Linked DNA regions of Homo sapiens. The protein of the gene in region 3 interacts with the protein of the main gene of each other region in a pairwise test. Each region holds a gene or a part of one and is shown on either strand. Other genes may lie near its edges.

Region 1 (7,548 bases), on a different chromosome or scaffold from region 3:
GGAGTTCGAGACCAGCCTGGCCAACATGGTGAAACCCCGTCTCTACCAAACATACAAAAATTAGCCAGGCAAGGTGGTGCACACCTGTAATCTCAGCTACTTGGGGTGCTGAGGCAGGAGAATCGCTGGAACCTGGGAGGCAGAGGTTGCAGTGAGCTGAGATCATGCCACTACACTCCAGCCTGGGTGACAGAGCGAGACTGTGTCTCAAAAAACAAACAAACAACAAAAACAAAACTGCCCAGTGGCTTCCTACTGTGCTCAGAATTAAATCCAAATGCCCATCACGCCCTGCAGGTCCCCAAATGATCCAATTCCCCCATTAGAAAGTAAGTTCAGGAAAACAGCAATTTTGCTTGTTTTTTTTTGTTTTCTTTTTTTTATTTTCTTTTCCACTGCTATGCCCGCAGGGCCTGGCACACATTAAGTACTCAATTAAGCAACAGCCGAATGCACCTGGCTATCAGATGGCCTCGTGCTGGGATGGGGGGGATGCCTATGTCACCTCCTGCCTGACATCTATAAGACACCCTCAGGGTTCAGTCGCATCTGCTGTTCATTTACAGTGTAGACTCACGGTTTTTTGCAGTGGGCAGCTGTGAGGACCCACAGTGGATGGATAAGGACCCCACCACAGAGCAAGTGGCCCGAGGTGTAGAGGGCAGCTTGGTAGGGGTGAGATGTCTTGTCGCAGGGTCCGCCATGCACCAACTTATTCTGCTCCTCTGCCCAGGCTGAGGGAGAGAAGATCTGAGTCAGAGAGGAGTTCTGGAGAAACCAAGCGCATCCCCCTCAACATGAACTCCAGTCAAGATTGGTCAGGTGCAGTGGCTTATGCCTGTAATCCCAGCTGAGGCAGGAGGATCGCTTGAGCCCAGGAGTTTGAGACCAGCCTCGGTAACACAGTGAGACCTCATCTCCACACACACACACACACACACACACACACACACACACACAAATTAGCAGGGTATGGTGGCATACGCCTGTAGTCCCAGCTACTTGGGAGGCTGAGGTGGGAGGGTCACTTGAGACCCAAGAGTTCAAGTCTGCAGTGAACTATGGATCATGCCACTACACTCCAGCCTGGGTGACAGAGTGAGACCCTGTCTCAAAAAAAAAAAGCTTCTCTGTATTTCCACTCCCAAACTTACCCCATTCCCATTACAAACCCAACTGTATCCCCTATTCCCGGGCTCTCTCCAACTTTCCAACCTACCTCCTACCTCTTCTATGTTTAGATCCCCATCCCTAAAGCCAACCCCACCCCAAACCCTCATATCTTCAAACCCACCTCCCACCACCCTCCCTATCTGTATTCCCCACCCTTAGCCTAATCCCCAACGTCTTCCTCATTTCAAAGCTCCCCCACCCCAACCCTGTGCATATCCCCATCCCCAATACCAGCCTCTTCTCCATCAACAAGCCCAACCCTGTCTGCAAGCCTCCCCCATCCAAATGCCCTTTCCCCACCTGCAGCAATCAGACTCAGCACCACCATCAGCTTCTTCATGGCCGCTCCTGAGAGGGGAAGCCACATGGTCCATTAGTCACTGCCTCGACCCTCCCCCCATCCCTCTGTCTGCTCCCTCTGCATCCTCTCCTTCCTTCCTGGCCTGCTATGGTCTCCTGCCTTGACCTCTGTCCTTCCCATCTAGCCTCCTGATTTATTCTTCCTCAGCCCACATCTTCCATCAGAGGATCCCACGAAAACAGTGCCAAAGAGAATTCAGAACTACGTCCACTGGTCCAGTAACCCATGGTGAGATTCTGATTAGATCTTTCTACTTTCTTGGGCACTGATTTGCCTTCCTGTCGACAGGAGAGGGTTACCCTAGGGGGCCCTAGCGTTCTTCCTCTGTATGGGAGTTTTCCTCGGAGCCTGGCTCTGTGCGCAATGGCCACCCACCCCGCCCACCCGGCAGGTTCTGTGATGTCTGTGATCTCACCTGCTGCAGGCCTCCGGGCTCCGGGGATTCTTGAGTCGGGGGAAGGAACAGCTTTGAGACGAGGAGGCAGAAAGAGTTAGAAATGCGGGGAGCCGTGAGGAGAGAAGACACTCAGATGCAGTGGCAGAGCCAAGCGGAGGACGCAGGGGCCGCAGAGCCCAGGGCTGCAGGGACTGCCAGACACACACCCCCAGCTCCCAGGCCTCCCTGGAAGAGGCTGGTTCTGTCCCCAGATGCTTCTGGAACGTCCTTTTAACCCCTGTCTCTCAGGTCCCTGAGCCAGGAGACTGGCTACACCCTTTTCCTCCTTACCCAGGCCTCCCACACACATTCCTCCCGCCCCCACGCTCTGCTCTTGGTGACCCCTGACCAGGCCTCCAGGGAAGGGAGCACTGGTCCCTGAGTGCAGTGAGGGCCTGGACTCCTGGGTCTGAGGGAGGAGGGGCTTGGGGGCCTGGACTCCTGAGTCTGAGGGAGGAGGGGCTGGGGGCCTGGACCCTTGCGTCTGAGGGAGGAGGGGCTTGGGGCCTGGACTCCTGGGTCTGAGGGAGGAGGTGAGAACTTGGACTCCTGGGTCTGAGGGAGGAGGGGCTGGGGGCCTGGACTCCTGAGTCTGAGGGAGGAGGTGGGAACTTGGACTCCTGGGTCTGAGGGAGGAGGGGCTAGGACCTAAACTCCTGGGTCTGAGGGAGGAGGGGCTGGGGCCTGAATCTGAGGCAGAGGAAGTTCTAGTCGGCTCAGTCCTTAGACCTCCGGGTTTTGGAGAAAGAAAGTGTCTGAAGACAAATTCCGGCCTCTGGGGCAAGCAGATGGTGCCCCAGGCCTCCCTGCACCCCCAGCACTCTCTGTGCCACCCAGGGACCTGCAGGCCCTCACTCCGGGCTCTAGAGCCCTCCGGCACTGGGAAGCAGCCTGCCCAGGTTCAGTGCGGTTGGGGTGACTCACACACCTGCCCGTAGGTCCCTCTGTGTGCTGCCTGCCGACCTCTGTGTCCCCAGGAGAGAGCGAGCCAGCCAGCCGGGGAGACAGCTACAGCGTGTGTCACCACACTGGCCCCCGCCCCTGCCCCGGGCTGGGGAGCAGGCCCAGGCGCGATGGGGAAAGGGCCCAGGAACAATCGGGCTTTGTCCGCCCCCAGCACCCCAGTGCCATGCTCCCAGCAGCTCCGGCCTCAACCTCTCTTCCGGCGGGCAGGCGGGAGGGCGGTTACATCAATGGCTTCCTTTTGTCCCTGTCTGACAGTCCTCCTTTGCAGTCTCTGACTGCCCACCTGGCCCTGACTGGAGATTTCGGCACTCCACATCCTCCTGGTCCTTCTCCTCCAAGTCTGCCCACCCCTGAGGTCTCTTGCTCCATCTGTCTCCCTGGCCATGGAGGGGAGGGAGCTTCCATCTCTCTCTCTCTCCCATCTCAGTCTCTGTATTTGTGTCTCTCTCCCTCTTTTTTTCTCTCTCTCCCTTCCTCTCTCCCTTCCTCTCTCCCTTCCTCCCTTCCTTCCTTCCTTCTTTCTTTCCTTCCTTCTTTTCTTTCTTTCTTTCTTTTTTTTTGACGGAGTCTTGCTCTGTCACTCAGGCTGGAGTGCAGTGGTGTGATCTCAGTTCACTGCAACCTCCGCCTCCTGAGTTCAAGCAGTTCTCCTGCCTCAGCTTCCCAAGTAGCTGGGATTACAGGCACCCACCACCACGCCCGGCTAAATGTTTTTTGTATTTTTAGTAGGGAAGAGGTTTCACCATGTTGGCCAGGCTGGTCTCAAACTCCTGACCTCAGGTGATCCACCCACCTTGGCCTCCCAAAGTGCTGGATTACAGGTGTGAGCCACTGTGCCCGGCCTCTCTCCCTTTCTTTCCCCTTGATTCTCTGACTCTCCGTGCTTATCTTCTCCTGGGTCTCTTCTTAGATTTCCCCGGGGGTAGCACTGTGTGTGCCCAGAAGGGAGTCAGTTTCCCCAGGAAGTAGCGGGGATGATTCCCGAGCGATGAGGAAGCTAGCAGGATGGAAGAGGACTTGAGGACTTATTGATGAGATGCGGACACACAGCGAGAGGCATGGAGTTAAGCAGAAATCGGAGAGCACTTGGGAACGACGTGGGGCTGTGATAAGATGGTGGTGCTGGGCAGTAGCAGAGGGATCTGGGAAGATTTAGGGAGGTGTCTTTGAACTTGGGCCTAGAAAGCTGAGCCAGGCGTAGGTCAGGAGGAAAGGCCGTGAAAATGCCTGGCCTGGGTGCACATGGGAAACCACAGGCAGTGGTTGGGGTGGTTGGTATGGGCTGGAGGGTGAGGGTGTGTGCGTGGCAGAGTGGAGAGAAATGAGGAGGGGGAAGTCACTGCGTAATAAGGACAATGATAGGAATGAAGTCTGGCTCAGCACCTGCTTGGGCTGGGCACTACAGGTAACTTAAAAAAAAAAGTTCTTTTTTCTTTTGAGACAAGGTCTTGTTCTGTCGCCTAGGCTGGAGTGCAGTGGCACGATCCTTGCTCGTGGCAGCCTCAACCCTCCTGGGCTCAAGCGACCCTCCCGCCTCAGTCTTCCCAGGAGCTGGGACCATAGGCATGAGCCACTGTTCCCAGCCAACCCTTTTCTTTGTCTTGCATTGAATCTAATTGTCATCTTGCATTGTGCACCCCCCATCACTCCAGGGATGAAGACTACTTCGGTATTCAGTATACTCTCCGGGTGCTCCCTCTCACATTTGGTCCCCACTGACCTCAGCACCTTCTTCTCAGGACGTGCTATCTTCACAGACAGCAAGTCTGATGTTGCACAACCCAGTGACCAGGCCCTATCCCTCTGCCTCCTCTCTCTGGGGGGTCCCTTCCTCTCTGTACCCACACCCTCAACCCCAACTCAGAGCTGCACCTCTCCCACCTGGACCAGGATCCCTCTGTTCTCTGTATCCCTTGCCCCAGAGAGACCTTCCTGTGCCTTGTGCTGACCTTGCCCCTCCTCTCACAGACGTGCCCTGGGTCCCCATCTCCCTTGGGACCAAGTCCCAGCCCCCCAGCCTGGCATTTGAGGACCTTTAGCATCCAGGGAAGTCCTGGCCAATGAAATGTGATGCCAAGCACGCATGCACATTTACATTTTCCAATCACCATACTTTTTTTTTTAAGTCAGAAGATTTTTTAAGTGTCCTTACCACAAAAAATAAGGGTGTAAAATAATGCATATGTTAAATAGCTTGGTTTAGCCATTCCACAACATATACATACATATATCAAACATGATGTTATACACCAGAAATATATACAATTTTTACTTGTCAATTAAAAAATAAATTTAAGGCCAGGCATGGTGGCTCATGTCTGTAATCCCAGCACTTTGAGAGGCCAAGGTGGGTAGATAGCTTGAGTCCGGAAGTTCATGACCAGCCTGGGCAACATAGTGAGAAACCATCTCTGCAAAAAGTAAAAAAATTAGCCAGATGTGGTGGTGCACACTTGTAGTCCCAGCTACTCCGGAGGCTGAGGCGGGAGAATTGCTGAGCCTGGGAGGTCGAGCCTGCAGTGAGCTGTGACTATACCACTGCACCCCAGCCTGACATGGCTGGGCAAGGTGGCTCATGCCTGTAATCCAAGCACTTTGGGAGGCAGAGGTGGGAAGATCACTTGAGCCTAGGAGTTCGAGACCAGCCTGGACAATATAGTGAGACCCTATCTCTAAAAAAAAAAACAAAAAAAAGAAAAGAAAAAAATTACCTAGGTGTGGTGGCACACATCTGTGGTCCCAGCTATGCAGAAGGCTGAGGTGGGATAGTTGCTTGAGCCTGGAGGCCCAGGTTGCAGTAAGCCATAATCACGCCACTGCACTTCAGTGTGACAGAGCCAGACCCTGTCAAAAATTTTTTTAAAAGGAGTCCTGAGTGGTGAGTGGCCCTCACACTGCATGACACAGCTATGTCTACGTCTCCGTGTGGCTCCAGCTTTCTAGAACACATCAAGCTTCCCTGACCCATGCCATGCCCTCTGGCCTCTGGCCCTTCACTGAATGCTATTCCCTCTTCTTCTTGAGATGGAGTCTCGCTCTGTCGCCCAGGCTGGAGTGATGTGGCGCGATCTCTCTTCGCCTGCTGGGTTCAAGCAATTCTCCAGCCTCAGCCTCCCGAGTAGCTGGGATTACAGGCACACACCACCATGCCTATATTTTTAGTAGAGATGGGGTTTCACCATGTTGGCCAGGCTGGTCATGAACTCCTGACCTCAGGTGATCTGCCTGCCTCGGTCTCCCAAAGTGCTGGGATTACAGGCGTGAGCCACCGTGCCTGGCCTATTCTCTCTTCTTAGCATGTTTTCCCCACCTTTTCCTGGCAATAACCTGTCCTTCAAGTCTTTACTTGGACATTACCTCCTCCAGGAAACCTTCCCTGAACACCACCCAGCTGCCACCTGCTGTAGTTGGATTACTCATTCTCTCACGTAGGTTCCCACAGCAGGTGTCTCCCTCAACCCAACCTGGACGGGGGGCCACCTGGATTGACATTCGTCATCTCTTCCACTGGACCGTGAGCTCCTTGAGGGCAGGTACGGGACTGACTCATCCCTGTGTCCCAAGCAACCACACAGGACCTTGCCCAGAAGAAGCCTTAGGCAAGACTGACCAAATGACTAAATGACTTTATCACACCCACTCCCATTTTACAGATAAGAAAACTGAGGCTCAGAACGGGAAGTTCATTGCTCATCATCAAACATCCAGGAAATGGTGGAGCCTGAATGGGAACTCAGCTTCCAACATGGCGTGGATGTGGCCCATCCCTTGGTGGCCTGGCTGGGTCTATCTTATGACAGTACGAGGTGAGTGAACTTGGGAGGAATTGTTGAGAGCTGGGTGGGGAAAGAAGGGAGGTGTTAGGCTGTGGGGAGTGGAGGGACTTTGAAGAGAAAGAAATTTCTAACTCTACCTCTTCTCTGGTGACCTTCATGGTTTGCCATCTCTGCATACTTTGAATGCTTATTTACTGGATAGTTTGCTCCAGATTGTCTTGCTCTGCAAAACTCTTCACTAAATAAATTCTTCTGTCTCGGTGCAGTGGTTCACACCTGTAATCCCAGCACTTTGGAGGGCTGAGGTGGGAGGATTACTTGAGCTCAGGAATTAGAGACCAGCCTGGACAACATAGTGAGACCCCGTCTCTACTAAAAAAAAAAAAAAAAATCAGCCCAGGCATGGTCCCAGCTACTCGAAAGGCTGAGGCAAAAGGATTGTTTGAGCCCAGGAGACTGAGGCTGCAGTGAGCTATGATCATGCCACCAAACTCTAGCCTGGATGATAGAGCAAGACCCTATGTGAAAAAAAGAAAAAAAAAATTATAAGGAAACTTCATGAGACTGTAAGCAGAAAAAAGTGCCAGAAGTCATAAACAATAAAAACCAATGCCTGGGCCAGGCGCGGTGGCTCATGCCTGTAATCTCAGCACTTTGGGAGGTCAAGGCGGGCAGATTGCCTGAGGTCAGGAGTTTGAGGACAGCCTGGCCAACGTGGTGAAACTTGGTCTCTACTGAAAATACAAAAATTAGCCGGGCATGGTGGCAGGCACCTGTAATACCAGCTACTCAGGAGGCTGAGGCAGGAGAATCACTTGAACCTGGGAGGCAGAGGT
Region 2 (6,966 bases), about 30 Mb from region 3:
GCTATATGCAGTCACTATTCTAGGCACTAGGATTAAAGCAATGACCAAACTGACAAAACTTCCCAGTCTCAGGAAGCTTTCATTCTATTGGCAAGAGAGGGATGGGATGGGATGGGATGGGATGTCACGCAGTTAAGTGCTACGGAAGAAAAACGGGACAGCAGGAGCTGGCAGGGTGCTGGTTTTTATTAAGAGCAGATCTTTTAACCCAGTGGTTCTCAAACTTTAGCAAGCATCAGAATCATTTAAAGGGCTTATTAAAGAAAAGAAATTCACAGGCTACCAAAAAAAGACAGGCACAAACTCAAGTAATTGCAACAGAGCGCTACAGAAGGCCATAAAAGTGGTATGTACATGAGCCAGAGGATGGAAGAGCAACTCATTCTATGCAGGAAAAGGAGAGACTAAGGGACTGCATCCCAGAGGCCCAACAAGGTCATCTCCACAGGCAGGTAAGGGGTGGAAGGGAAGCATTCCAGGAAGAAAACAGAACATGCAAGAGTGAAGATGAGAGTGGCAGGGGAGCCACAGAAAGTGAGACTGCAAAGGCAGGCAGTGGTCTGATCCCTGAGAGCTTTTTATTCCATGTTACTCTGAAATTTATCTTCAGAATATGAAGAGTCAGGGGTAGGGGGCGCTGATGTGGTAAGGTTTTGTTTTACAGAAATCTTTCTGGATGCACAGTACCTTCCTTTGAGGCACTGCTTCCTTCAAACCTAGCACAGGGACTCAAAACATGTGCTTAGTAAATGTATATTGAATTGAACTGAACAAGCTTTTTACCAAATGCCCTGTTATGGATGAGGCAGGTCACCTTCCCTGCAGGACTCACTTTGGCCAAGAGAAGACTTGTAAAACAGGTCCAGCAGCCTCAATTATTGCACACTACTACCTGTACAACTGGAGTCCCCCAGAGATTAGGGCAGACCTTCATTGTTTACTTGTCTACCTCACCCATTAGACTTTGAGCTCTTTGAAGACAGGGAATATCTTAATAGACTGAATCCCCATAGCCTTAGCAAGAGGCCTGAAACATAGTAGCTCTCCGAACTCCAGTAATGTTGGATAAACGAATTGACTGAATAAGCAAATTTACCAAGGTAGACCCATGAGCTCATGTAGTTAAAGAGTATGGATAAGCTTCAGGGAAAGTATGGGAAGTTTTCAGGGTCAATGTTCCCAAAACCCTTTTTGAAAGGCATAGTTTCTAGTTGAGGTGGGGAGTTTTTATATGCACCTGACTTAGAATTTTCCAAATAGGAACCAAAATGTTGTAAGTGCTGTGGTAGAAATCCCACCGGGCCAATGGGAAGAAATCAGCTCTGTCTGTAAGAGGAGAGACAGGATGGAGGCCAGCAAAGACTTCACAGTGTGGGAATTCTTCAGTGGACTCTTGAAAGCTGAGTCCGGTGCTTGCTACTTGCCCGTTTTGGGGCATAAAACCAAACTTCTGGAGCTTTTAAGGCTGGAAGTGACCTGCTCAAGGTCACACAAGAAGTAGATGAAGCCACAGGGTAAGAGAGATGAGGTATCTGTACTGATAATTCCTACTTTCTCCTGACAGAGTTGAAAGAGAACCCAAAAATGTAGGAGGCAAAATTAAAGATTGTTCTCAGGAACAATTCTTAAAGTCAAGACTAATGAATCTGAATTTTTATTAGTAACCACGGAACTAACCCTTCCCTTCACTGTTCACAGTTTTTGTAACAGTAGAACAATTATCCAAGGGGTTTAAAAACCAAGGACGTTGCTCACAACGCCACACCCACTACTTCTCAAGTATTCTTCCAAAACACTCCCAGTAATGTGTACTGCTGAAATAGGATAGCGAAGGCTACAACAATCATGTCTTTTCAAACGTAATAATGAACATAAAATAACTATAAATCTCCTTCCCCGGTTGTTTTTCACTTCCCAAGTTACAGAATATTCCGGGGTGGGGGAGGGGCTGCGTAAGTCAAGTCCTACCAGCCCTTATTTTTCAGGGAGTAGAACCCTAAAGGTGACTGTCCAAGCCTGGAAGGGGTCATTTATTCCATGCAGAAGGAACTGGGCGCCGCTTTGCTGTGCCTCCTCGTAGCGGGACAGGGTGAGCGCCGCAGGACTGCGAAGTTCGGGACGGACTCGGTCCCGGACCGGTACTCGTGTGGCCTCCCGGCTCCAGCCTGGCCTGGCCCCGCCCCGCCCCTTCCCTCTCCCAGGTCTCTCGAATCGCCCGGCGTCTGAGACCCGCGACCCCGCCGGTACGCGCACAGGGGGCCTTTGTTGGCCCGACGGGAGCGGGCCTCGCGGGGCGCCGCCCGCCTCACCTTACCTGGCGCCTCCTCCCGCCCAGGCGCCCGGCCCCGCAACGCGAAATAAATGGGCCCAGACCCCCACTCCACCCGTCCCCACCCCCGCGCCCCAGCCCTGGCAGCCCGGGACGCGAGGGGTACTGGGCGGTAGGCCCGCTCTCACCTTCCGCGCTCGCTCAGCTCCTCTCGGCTCCTCCTCCTCCTCCCGGCGGTGGGTGCCGCCTAGCCGGGAGTGAGGGCGCGAGTGTGCGCGAGCTACCGCTTCACTTTCTCCCTCCTGCCGCCGCCGCCGCGCTGCCCGTGGCGGGGCTCCCCTCAGGACAGGGGAACTGCGAGGGAAGGGATGATGGGGGGGCGGGAGGGAGCGAGGCGACGCGGGCGGGGGGGGAAGGGGGGACTGAGGGGCGAGGTGCGAAGGGCTCAGATGGCCTCTGAGGCAGGAGGTGGTAACTGGATGCGGAGACCAGGTTCCTCGAGGGGGCTCACGAAAGCGCGGGGCTCCGTGGAAAAGGGAATGAGAGTCCAAGGGGGAAGGCGTCTGTGGGGGAGGACTGCAGAGCCTGTGAGGGAAGCGCGATGGGCGAGCGAGGGGGCGGGAGCGTGTGGGGGAAGCCGTGAGGGGGCGTCTACTGTGCAGCCACCACCTTCGGCTCCGGCTGCAGCCGCGGGAGGGCAGCCTCCCCCGCCCACAGCCGCGCTATTGTACGCCGCCCGGCAGGCCTGACCGCCTAGTTCACTGGCTCCCCTACTCCTCCTCCTCCCGCCTCCTCCTCCCCTCTGCCCTTTCCCCTTCTCCCCCTCCCCCTCCCCCACTCCCCCTCCCCGGCGCGGCGGCGGCGGCTGCGGCTCCGGTGGAGCCGTGCCCGCCCCGCCTCCCGCAGGTGAGAGGGGGCGGGGAGGGCCTGACCGACCCGTGGGAGCGAGGCCAAACCCTGGCCCGCATGAGGGCGAACGCCTGGGATTACGTCATCGGCGCGTGACGCCAGAGGCTGGGGAATCACCCGCTTGCTGCGTGACGTCATCGCGTCGCGTCACTGTTCTCGGTCCGCTGTCCGTGGCGGGTTGTTTCCGTGCAGCCTTTCTATCAGACAATTTTGGGACGATTTCTGGGAGGGCTACTGTAGTAGTCAGGATGGAGAAAGACGGCTAACTTCCGGCGCTGAGGGTCCTTTTCAGGTTAACAAAGCACCACCGCATCTATGAGCTCGTTGTCAAGGGCTGAATTTGAAAACTATCCGATGTCGTGTGATCTCACAGCCAGACATGTATTATGTTTTCTTTCTGTGGGAGAGGGGGCAGGGGTGGGAGGAAGACAAAGAAATTATAACGGAGATGTTTGAACTAATGTGAACTGACATACGAAAAGAATGGGCTTCCTTTCACGTTTTTTCCCCTACCGTGGAGGGTACTTTCGACCCAAAGCTTTCTTTCTCCTGAGCTCAGATTGTGTATTTCCCAATACCTCCCGAGCAGCATTACCTGCATACTCTTCGTACCTCAGATTCAACATGTGCGAAACTGAGACAGCATTAGAAAGGCTAAGAGTCCGGAATCAGGTTGCCTTGCTTGAAATCCTAGCTATTCAAATATTAGTGATAGGACCTTGACATTTCTAAGCCGTAATTTTTCTGTAATAATAAGTAGTACCTTAACTAGGTCTTCCTAAGCCTCAGTTTTACCATGGTAATAGTAACAAGCCCTTTAGAATGTTGGCTATTATTATTATTTCCCCCCCAAAATTGCTTCTTACGTTCCTTTCCGTTCTCAATGAATGGGCCACCCATTCAACAATCCCCTAAGCCAGGAACCTAGACATACTAATAGCTCCCCGTTCTTCCTCTCTCAACATCCATATCAAGTTGGACACCAAGTCTTGTAGCTTCTCCTAAATATTTTTCAAGTCCTTGCCTGTGTCGTCTTCTACTACCACCACCTGAACAACTGGAGCAACCTTTAGTCTCTTCAAACTCAATCTATTTTTCTCACTAGTTACCTGAGTAGCCTTATAAAAGCACAAATCTGATGATGTCCTCCCGTTTAAACACCGAAAGGATTTTATTGCTTTCAGGATAAAGTTCAAACTCCTGAACTTGGCACTTTATTACCTGACTGCTTACACTAGCCTTTCTAGCTTTGTCTCACATCATTTATTTTTTGCTCCAAGCACACTGAAATATTAACGTTATTTGAATACACATTTCTTCATGTCTTCAAGCTCTTCCCTACTTAGCTGACTGGCCAACACCTATTCATTGTACAAAGCTGAGCTCAAATGTCATTCATATTCATATTCATATTCATTTGACTAATATTTCTAAAGTTTCCCTAAGCCTTAACAAAACTGTAATTCTATAGTATTTCTATGCCTTTTATGGAAGTAACTGCATTTGTGTATCTAATTTCTTGAGTTCCAAGTCATATTCCTTTCCATATCCTCAGCACCTAAAACAGTGCTTGACATATACCTAAGTATCAATATGTTGTTAAAATATATTTAATAAGGCCAGGCGCGGTGGCTCACGCCTGTAATCCCAGCACTTGGGAGGCCAAGGCAGCCAGATCACCTGAGGTCAGAAGTTTGAGACCAGCCTGGCCAATATGGCGAAACCCCATCTCTACTAAAATACAAAAATTAGCCGGGCGTAGTGGCAGGCACCTGTAATCCCAGCTACTCAGGAGGCTGAGGCAGGAGAATTGCTTAAACCCAGGAGGCGGTGGTTGTAGGAAGCTGTGATTGCACCACCACACTCCAGCCTGGGTGACAAGAGCAAAACTCTGTCTCAAAAAAAATGTATTTAATAAATGTTCCTATTGTTCTTTCTATGTGCCAGGTACTGTTCTGAGCACTTTACAAACACTGTCTTTAAACCTCTACCCTCTACGGTAGATACTGTTGTTATCCTCACCCATCTTATTGATGCGGGAACTGAGGCACAGAGGGGTTAAGTAACTTAACCCAGGATCCTAACCCAGTAAATTGACTCTAATCTGGATTGTCTTTTCGTGATCTCTGCACTAGGCAGAATAATGGCTCATCCAATGGAATGTTCACATTCCAATCCCTGGGAACTATGAATATGTTACCTTCCATGACAAAAGGACTCTGCAGATGTGAGTAAATTGAGGATTTGGGGAAAGGGACTCTCCAGCTTTTGGGAGCAGACTGGAAAATGGAAAAGGCAAGAAAATGGATCCTCCCTTGGAGCCTCTGGAAAGGAAGAGATGGTATCCTGATGATACCTTAATTTTAGCCCACTGACATCCATTTAGGACTTCTGAACTACAGAACTGTGAAATAATAAATGTGTATTGTTGGCCAGGCACAGTGGCTCACATCTGTAATCCCAGCACTTTGGGAGGCCGAGGCGGGTGTATCACCTGAGGTCAGGAGTTCAAGAGCAGCCTGGCCAACATGGTGAAACCCCATCTCTACTAAAAATACAAAATTAGCTGGGCGTGGTGGCACATGCTTGTAATCCCAGCTACTCGGGAGCTGAGGCAGGAGAATCGGTTGAATCCAGGAGGTAAAGATGCTGTGAGCCGAGATTGCGCCATTGCACTTAAGCCTAGAGACAAGAGTGAAACTCCATCTCAAAAAATAAAATAAAAAAATAAAAATAAATGTGTATTGTTTTAAGCCCACTTTGTGTTTGATAATTTGTTACAGCATCCATAAGAAACTAATACAATCTCTAATCAAAGGTGACTGCTCTATGCTAGGAATTGCTAGCAGGATGAGAAGTGAAACTGTCCACCAAAGCTGCAGCTGAAATCAGAGATGGGCTAGAAGTGGAATAAATAAGTAGGATAAGTGTATACAGTAAGTCCTCACTTAACGCCATCAATGGGTTCTGCAACTTTAGGCAAAACAATGTATAACAAAACCAATTTTACCATAGGCTGGCTAATTGATATAAATAAGAGTTGAGTTCCTGTGGCATATTTCTGGTCACAAGACATCATCAAACTTCTAAATAAAGACCAAAACACCTCTAATATCAAACATTGAAATCAATGTGGCCTATACATACATTTAAGAAAGATTAATAAAAAGAGGCCAGACCAGGTGCCTTGGCTCATGCCTGTAATCCCAGCACTTTGGGAGGCCAAGGTGGGCAGATCGCTTGAGCCCAGTAGTTTGAGACCAGGCAAGATAACATGACAAAACACCATCTCTACAAAAAAAAAAAAACCCAAATACAAAAAATTAGCCAGGCATGTCAGCACACCCCTATAGTCCCATAGTCCCAGCTACCCAGGAGGCTAAGGTGGGAGGATCACTTAAGCCCCGGAGGTCAAGGCCACAGTGAGCCATGACCGCACACCTTTGCACTTCAGTCTGGGCGACAGAGTGAGACCTTGTTTCAAAAACAAAACAAAAAACAAGAGGCTGGGCACAGTGATTCATGCCTGTAATCCCAGCATTTTGGGAGACCAAGGCAGAAGATCACTTAAGCCTAGGAGGTCGAGGCTGCAGTGAGCCGTGATCATGCCACTGCACTCCAGCCCAGGAAACAGCGTGAAACCGTGTCTCAAAAATAAACAAGTAAGATCATTATTTACCCAATTTTTCCAGTTCAGGGTTGAGAGTGGCCAGAGCCTATCCCAGCAGCTAAAGGTGCAAGGCAGGAACCAACCATGTATAGGATGCTACGTAAGCTATTCCAGGGTG
Region 3 (7,263 bases):
TCAGCACTCATGAGAGTCCGGTCAAAGTCTGTGCTTCGCACATAAACCTGCAGCGATAGCAACACAAGTCGTGTGTGTGTGTGTGTGTGTGTGTGTGTTGGGGAAGTTTTGGTCACCCTGAAGTGGAGCCTTGTATGTATGTGTGTGTGTGTGGTGGGAAGTTTTGGTCACCCCAAAGTGGAGCCCCAGAGGAGAACCTGTTCCTGATGGTCACCCAGCAAACTAAACCTACCATACATCTGGCCCTCACCCTCCTCTGGCCTCTGGCCTTCCCCATCCCCCAAACACTCCACTGGGGGTTGTCACCACTCTGTGAAGAACTCTTGTGGGAATGGCCTTAGTTGAAATGCCCCTTCCAGTCAAAAGTGCTGAGTCAATCAGTAAGGCTCTCTGGTCTGTCTGGTTTCATAACAACACCTCTCTCCCTGTCTAGATCAGGGTCCTTGGGGCAGAAACTGGCTCCAGTGACGACCCTTAGAGACCAGGGAGAAAAAAATAAGATAAAGGGCTGGGCCTGGTGGCTCACACCTATAATCCTAGCACTTTGGGAGGCCAATGCAGGAGGATCGCTTGAGGCCAGGAGCTCGAGACCAGCCTGGGCAACATAGTGAGACCCTGTCTCTACAAAAAAAAATTTTTTAATTACCCAAGTGTGGCGGGCACTTGTAGTCCCAGCTACTTGGGATGCTGAGGCAGGAGGATCACTTGAGCCCAGGAGTTTGAGGCTGCAGTGAGCTATGACTGAGGCATGTGCTACAGTTTGGGTGACAGAGTGAGACCCCTTTAAAATATATGTATATATTTTGGGCCGGGCACGGTGGCTCATGCCTGTAATCCCAGCACTTTAGGAGGCCGAGGCAGGCGGATCAGCTGAGGTCAGGAGTTCAAGACCAGCCTGGCCAACATGATGAAATCCTGTCTCTACTAAAAATACAAAAATTAGCCAGGCATGGTGGCACACACCTGTAATCCCAGCTACTTGGGAGGCTGAGACAGGAGAATCGCTTGAACCTAGGAGGTGGAGGTTGCAGTGAGCCAAGACCATGTCACTGCACTCCAGCCTGAGCAACACAGCAAGACTCTGTCTCAAAAAAAAAAATTTTTTTTGAAGAGCTTATTCAGAGATAGTGGCTCATGAAAAGGGAGGAGGAAACTGGGGAAGGACAAGCTCAGGACAGAGCTGGGCCTTAAGAGAACAATAACAATGTCTATGGATTCTTGATACGGCTGAGGCTGACAGTGGTAATCAGAGGAACAGCTTCCCCCATTCCTGGGGTGGGGCGAAGACTCAAGGAGCAGGCACACTCACCAGTCCTCCCTGATGTGCCCTAGGAATATAGCACGACCTGGCGCAGCAGACAGGGCTCAAAAACCTCATCTTGATCAAGAAAAGACAAGCCCTCTCTACGCATGTCTTCCCCGCTGTCTTTCATCTTGGCCCTGTCTGGTTTATCATTAGATACCCCCACAACATTCTAAGCTCCATGAAGACAGAGATCATATCTGTATGGTGCACAACTGAATGCAAAGTGCTAGCACAGTCCTTGGCCTTTAATAGGTACTCAATGTCTTGGATGGAAAGCCTGTGATTTCACAGTCAGAAACCACTTTGCCAGGCCCGCCCTTAAGTCCGAATTTGGATGCTTAATCAAATTTGCCTCATCCCAGCCAAGCAGGGGCAACTCAGCTCCTAGGGCTTTGTTCCAGACAGCTCTCAGATGTCTTTTCCTGTAGTTGTGACCAAAAATACAAGAAGGAGGCCAAAGTGCCCAGCCTCAGCCTTAGGCTCCCTGAGGGCAAAAGATGAGGGCAGCATACCTTGTTCCCCTTGCCTCTGGAGCTCCCAACCTTACCTCTTGCCGGTGATAAGAGGTGTTTAGGAAGCCGTGATAGCGCTGCCGCAGGGCCTGGCCCAGTTCCCAGTGCTGTAGCATCCCCTCCTGTGGGCAAACCCAAGGGTTAAGAGGGTCTAGAGGGAAGGGGTGGCTTCAAGCCCCATGGGGTTTAGGCCCTGTTGCTTTCCAGGTTCACGCTTTGCTGGAGTCAATTAATCTGATCCCAGAAGTCTTTCATTAAGTGGCCAGTCATGCACAGCAATATCATGGGCACAGAGATTAAGGTTATGAAATCTGGTCAAAGTCAGCACCCATATGGGAAAAGGCAGTTTAGTAGGACCCCAAGTTTTGTAGACTGCTCTAGACGTCGCTCATTCTGCAGCTCATCCTGAGGAAAGGCTGGCTTCTGACCCACCTTGGTTAACTGACCAAACCCCTGGGGCCATTCTTCTTCCTGATAGGGGTCCTTGGGATATGTCTTCACTGGTGAACGGTCTCCATGGCGGTACAGCTGAGAGAATAAAATGGTTTGCCTATAGGTCAGAAGCATCCCCTTGATAGGGACCCAGAGCCTACCTTTTGCCCCATGTTAGGGAAGGAAGTCTCATTCCCTCTGGGAAGCCTACTGGCTGCAAAAGACCCCAGCTAGGAGTCAGTCACTTCTTCCAGATTCCAGAGATTCTAACTTAGCTAAGCAATGCTACTGGAGACCATAGGCAAAGCCAAGGTACAGGTAGGAAGGGAAAAGAGAAGTGAAAGCAACGTATGTGGTGGGGACAACTGGGGAAAAAAGATAACCAAAGGCTTCTTTAGGGATGAGTCTTAACCATTCAACCACTTCCCTGTCTCAAGGCAGACTCACCCCGACGTATTCGGTCATCCTGACTCCCATAAGCCAGGGCTCCAGGTCAATCCTGAATCCAGCCTCCCAACTACCCAGGCCAGTCGTCCCCTCCTAAACCAGCTGTTCCTTCCCGAGATCCTCGACCTCCACCAGCTGGCCTTTGCCCTTTTAGCTTCAGGGAAGTCTTTGGTGAGCCCATCTCTCATTACCAAGGTAACGAAGCGCAGACTCCGGGCCCGGGTGGGCGGCATCACCACCAGGTTCACGCCGAGAAGGAGCTGGAGGAGAGCCGCCCGGCTCCAGCCGGACCGCTTGCCCGCCATCACCGTTGTAATCTATGCAGCAAACAAGCTGGAACCCGCTGGGTGGCACCTGCAAGCAGCCGCCCGGACGCACCCGTAAGGACACACGCCGGAAGTGCGTTCGCCGCCATCTTACTTAGGGACCTGCTGGGGTGCGGGGAAAAGGCGCAGTCTCGGTGGGATTGCGTGCAGGAGGGTCGTGGTCTGGCTGTGGCGGAGGAGCATAAGAAGGTAACGCGACCTGGCGCGGCAGACAGGGCTCGAAGACCTCATCTTGATTAAGAAGGCCACAAATTCGCGTTTGCCTCTGCTCGGAGAAATCCCTTACCAAGGTGGCACTTGCAGTGGGCGGGACCATGTCTGGAGAACCAGCGTCCCCTCCAGGCTTGACCCCATAGCTAGATCGGGTGCAGAATTGAGGCGAGGGATGGGAAAGTAGAGGTCGCTTCTCTCCACGCCCCTGCCTTTGTGGGGAGATTGAGCCCTGGCCCTGTTCTCCAGGAGATGTTTTGCTTGGGGTGCAGGACACAGTATGTAAACAACCCTTTGGACTCCGTGTGTCCTTGAGGTTGCCCCAGTCTGGCCTACCGTTCCTGCCCTGCACAAAGCTTCAGTAGCCCTCTCACTTTCCCTTCCAGTCCTTTCCCTGTCCTCCCTCCCCTCCACTTCCAAGTTTTAGTTAATTAGAGTCAAGACGTCATGTCATGCCTCTTCCCAAAGGAGTTGGGTTGCACAGGATGTTCAGACTTTACAAACCCAAAGCACTGAATCCCTGGGGGAGGAATTTCAGACCAGTGGGGAGGTATTTTGAGGTAAGGGACAGGCGCATATCATAAAGTGGGAGTAGGTGGGGTTTCCACAGAATCAATGGCCCTCTTGGCATTGACCATTAGGATTCAGGTGCAGCCAGTTTGGCCTCAGGACTTTGTGACTCCTGTGACGGTTGCAGGTCAGATCATAGGTCCTGGGGATGCTTTGATTCAGATCTGCCTACTGGAAGCAAATCTCCTCAGATCTTTGGGAAACAAAACTGATCAGGCTTGGCCTGGGCGCCGTGGCTCACCTGTAATACCAGCACTTTGAGAGGCCGAAGCAGGCAGATCACCTGAGGTCAGGAGTTCGAGACCAGCCTGGCCAACGTGGCGAAACCCCGTCTCTACTAAAAATACAAAAAAAAAAAAATTAGCCGGGTGCAGTGGCGTGCTCCTGTAATCCCAGCTACTCTGGAGGCTGAGGCAGGAGAATCGCTTGAACTCGGAAAGCGGAGGTTGCAGTGAGCTGAGATCACGCCACTGCACTCCAGCCTGCGCGACAGAGTGAGACTGTCTCAAAACAACAACAACAAAAACCTGATTAGGCTTGGTGTGGTGGCTCACGTTTCTAATCCCAGCACTTTGGGAGGCCAGGGTGGGAAGATTGCTTGAGCCCAGGAGTTGGAGACCAGCCTGAGCAGCTTAGGAAGATCTCCTCTCTACAAAAAAAAGTTTAAAAATTAGCTGGGTGTGGTGGCACACACCTGTGGTCCTAGCTCCTCGGGAGGCTGAGGTGGGAGGATCACCTTCAGCCCAGGAGGTTGAGGCTGCAGTGAGCCATGATGGTGCAACTGCACTCCAGTCTAGATGACAGAGCAAGACTGTGTCTCAAAAAGAAGAAAAGAAAAAAAAAGATCAGGATTATCTGTCTTTATTTTGTCCTAGGACTCCAGATTCAATTATTTATATATACTTCAGGATTTAAACTTTGCTTCCAGAGTTGTCATGGAGGAGGCCAAGAAGCAAATAGAGTAAGAGCCAAAGCCTGGGTAGCCAAACAGTTCTTAACCTTCTTATTTAATCACAAGCCCCTTTATGAATCACATGAAAATTTTGCACCTCTCCTCCAGAAAAATGTTCACACATATAAACACACACATGGAATTTTGCATATAATCCCAAATGGTTCACAAAGACCATTTATTACAGGTTTCATAAATCAGCATCTCTGAATACCTGATTTAACCTAGTCCTCTTACTTTACAGCTTAGGAAACAAACCTAAAGAGAGGAAGTGACTTGCCCAAATTCACAGTTTGGGCATGGGCACAGTTTGAGAATGGATTAAAAGTCAAGTTTTGGCCGGGTGCGTGCTCACGCCTGTAATCCCGGCACTTTGGGAGGCCGAGGCGGGTGGATCACGAGGTCAGGAGATCAAGACCATCCTGGCTAACATGGTGAAACCCCATCTCTACTAAAAATACAAAAAGTTAGCCGGGTGTGGTGGCAGGTGCCGGTAGTCCCAGCTACTCAGGAGGCTGAGGCAGGAGAATGTCGTGAACCCAGCAGGCGGAGCTTGCAGTGAGCGGAGATCGTGCCACTGCACCCCAGCCTGGGCGACAGAGCAAGACTCCGTCTCAAAAAAAAAAAGTCAGGTTTTGTGATTTTCAGTTAAATAGTCTATAATGGGCTGCTTCTTGCAGGCTACTCAAACTGCATTACTAAACTGTAATTGGTGATCCCGAAATCCTTTCAATAAAGAGGTATCTGTCAAAGGAAACCTTTTCAAATTAGTTGGACTAAACGGGACCTAGGCCGGACATGGCTCACACCTGTAATCCCAGCACTTTGGGAGGACGAGGCGGGTGGATCACCTGAGGTCAGCAGTTCAAGACCAGCCTGGCCACCATGGTGAAACCCCATCTCTACTAAAAATACAAAAATTAGCCAGTCGTGGTGGCGTGTGCCTGTAATCCCAGCTACCGGGGAGGCTGAGACAGGAGAATCACTTGAACCCAGGATACAGAGGCTGCCGTGAGCCGAGATTGTGCCACTTCACTCCAGCCTGGGCAACAGAGCGAGACTCTGTCTCAAAAAAAAAAATAAAATAAAGAGGGCTTGGGTAATTGGCAAAATGCTGCATATTAGTGGTAGTGGGAGGCAGTTGAGTGTTTTGTTTTAATGGGCCTCTTACTCCTTGCAAACTAGCCAGACCATTGTACTTTCAGAGTGTAAATCTTTGGCTCACCAAATTTCAGCTATCTCTCAAATTCAGCTTTTGCTTTTCTTCCCACTTGCTCAAATATGTCTATATTCTTTGTGCATGCAAGTATCCCACGTAGGAGGGATTGATGAAGCAGATACTATTTCAGTTTTTATAGGGAGAAACTATTCCAGGAAGGGTGGGGATTACAGCGCAAGTAGATAGTAGAGCCTGAAGCTGAGCCCTAGTTTCTTCACCCCTTTGCCTTCAGCTTTTGCATTTTCTGCCAGATGATTCTGTGGTTCTTACACTTTGGTTCGTAACTACAGGTGCAAAAAAAAAAAAGAAAAAAAAAAAACACATGTAGATAGATGGATATGTGGGCCTATCCCAGATCAAATAAATCAGAATCTCTGAAGGTGAGGACAGGAACCACTACCATATTCTGTGTTGGCAGAAGCAAACCTAAATCCAGGTATGTTAGCCATTTTTTTTCCATCTGAAGAGGCAGTTTTTGTTTTGTTTTGTTGTTGTTGTTGTTGTTGTTGTTGTTTTTGAGATGGAGTTTTGCTCTTGTTGCCCAGGCTGGAGTGCAATGGCGTTATCTCGGCTCACAGCAACCTCCGCCTCCCGGGTTCAAGCGATTCTCCTGCCTCAGCCTCCCGAGTAGCTGGGATTACAGGCATGTGCCACCACGCCTGGCTAATTTTGTATTTTTAGTAGAGACAGCTTCTCCATGTTGGTCAGGCTGGTCTCGAACTCCCGACCTCAGGTGATCTGCCCATTTTGGCCTCCCAAAGTGCTGGGATTACAGGTGTGAGCCACCGCACCCACCCGGCTGTTTTTTTTGTTTGTTTTGTTTTGTTTTTGTGACAGAGTCTCCCACTGTCGCCCAGGCTGGAGTGCAGTGGCACAGTCTCGGCTCACTGCAAGCTTCACCTCCCAGGTTCACGCCATTCTCCTGCCTCAGCCTCTCGAGTAGCTGGGACTACAGGCACCTGCCACCACACCTGGCTAATTTTTTTGGCTTTTTTTTTTTGTATTTTTAGTAGAGACAGGGTTTCGCCGTGTTAGCCTGACCTAGTGATCCACCCACTCGGCCTCCCAAAGTGCTGGGATTACAGGCATGAGCTACTGCGCCCGGCCCCAGCCGGCAGTTTTATATAATGGAGTGTATTTGTGATTTTTGTTTGTTTGAGCTTGAGCTCAAACTTTTGAATCAGCTAAACTTGTATTCTTTTTTTTTTTTTTTTTTTGAGACAGTCTCCCTCTGTCACCCAGGCTGGAGTGCAGTGGTGCAATCATGGCTCACTGCAGCCTCGACCTCC

The links. Proteins that work in one complex are often made in the same cells at the same time.
Region 1: the proteins of ACP2 (region 3) and KLK6 interact in binary tests that used the Homo sapiens proteins (3 or more experiments, as listed by UniProt).
Region 2: the proteins of ACP2 (region 3) and PAK1 interact in binary tests that used the Homo sapiens proteins (3 or more experiments, as listed by UniProt).

What each region holds. Positions count from the first base shown.
Region 1 is NC_000019.10:50,966,592-50,974,139, forward strand, and holds the start of KLK6 (kallikrein-6 isoform A preproprotein), read right to left. Parts: upstream 3,001-7,548; 5' UTR 2,899-3,000; intron 2,177-2,898; exon of another isoform or gene 2,001-2,176; 5' UTR 1,950-2,000; exon of another isoform or gene 1,926-1,949; intron 1,763-1,925; exon of another isoform or gene 1,682-1,762; intron 1,522-1,681; 5' UTR 1,514-1,521; coding exon 1,474-1,513; intron 906-1,473; exon of another isoform or gene 735-905; coding exon 578-734; intron 1-577. UniProt on the Homo sapiens protein: Serine protease which exhibits a preference for Arg over Lys in the substrate P1 position and for Ser or Pro in the P2 position.
Region 2 is NC_000011.10:77,471,095-77,478,060, forward strand, and holds the start of PAK1 (serine/threonine-protein kinase PAK 1), read right to left. Parts: upstream 3,001-6,966; 5' UTR 2,458-3,000; exon of another isoform or gene 2,315-2,457; intron 1-2,314. UniProt on the Homo sapiens protein: Protein kinase involved in intracellular signaling pathways downstream of integrins and receptor-type kinases that plays an important role in cytoskeleton dynamics, in cell adhesion, migration, proliferation, apoptosis, mitosis, and in vesicle-mediated transport processes.
Region 3 is NC_000011.10:47,245,788-47,253,050, forward strand, and holds the start of ACP2 (lysosomal acid phosphatase isoform 1 precursor), read right to left. Parts: upstream 3,017-7,263; 5' UTR 3,003-3,016; coding exon 2,889-3,002; exon of another isoform or gene 2,852-2,888; intron 2,842-2,851; exon of another isoform or gene 2,728-2,841; coding exon of another isoform or gene 2,698-2,727; intron 2,569-2,697; exon of another isoform or gene 2,513-2,568; intron 2,347-2,512; coding exon 2,251-2,346; intron 1,941-2,250; coding exon 1,854-1,940; intron 48-1,853; coding exon 1-47. Other genes in the region: NR1H3 (oxysterols receptor LXR-alpha), read left to right, coding at 3,017-3,077.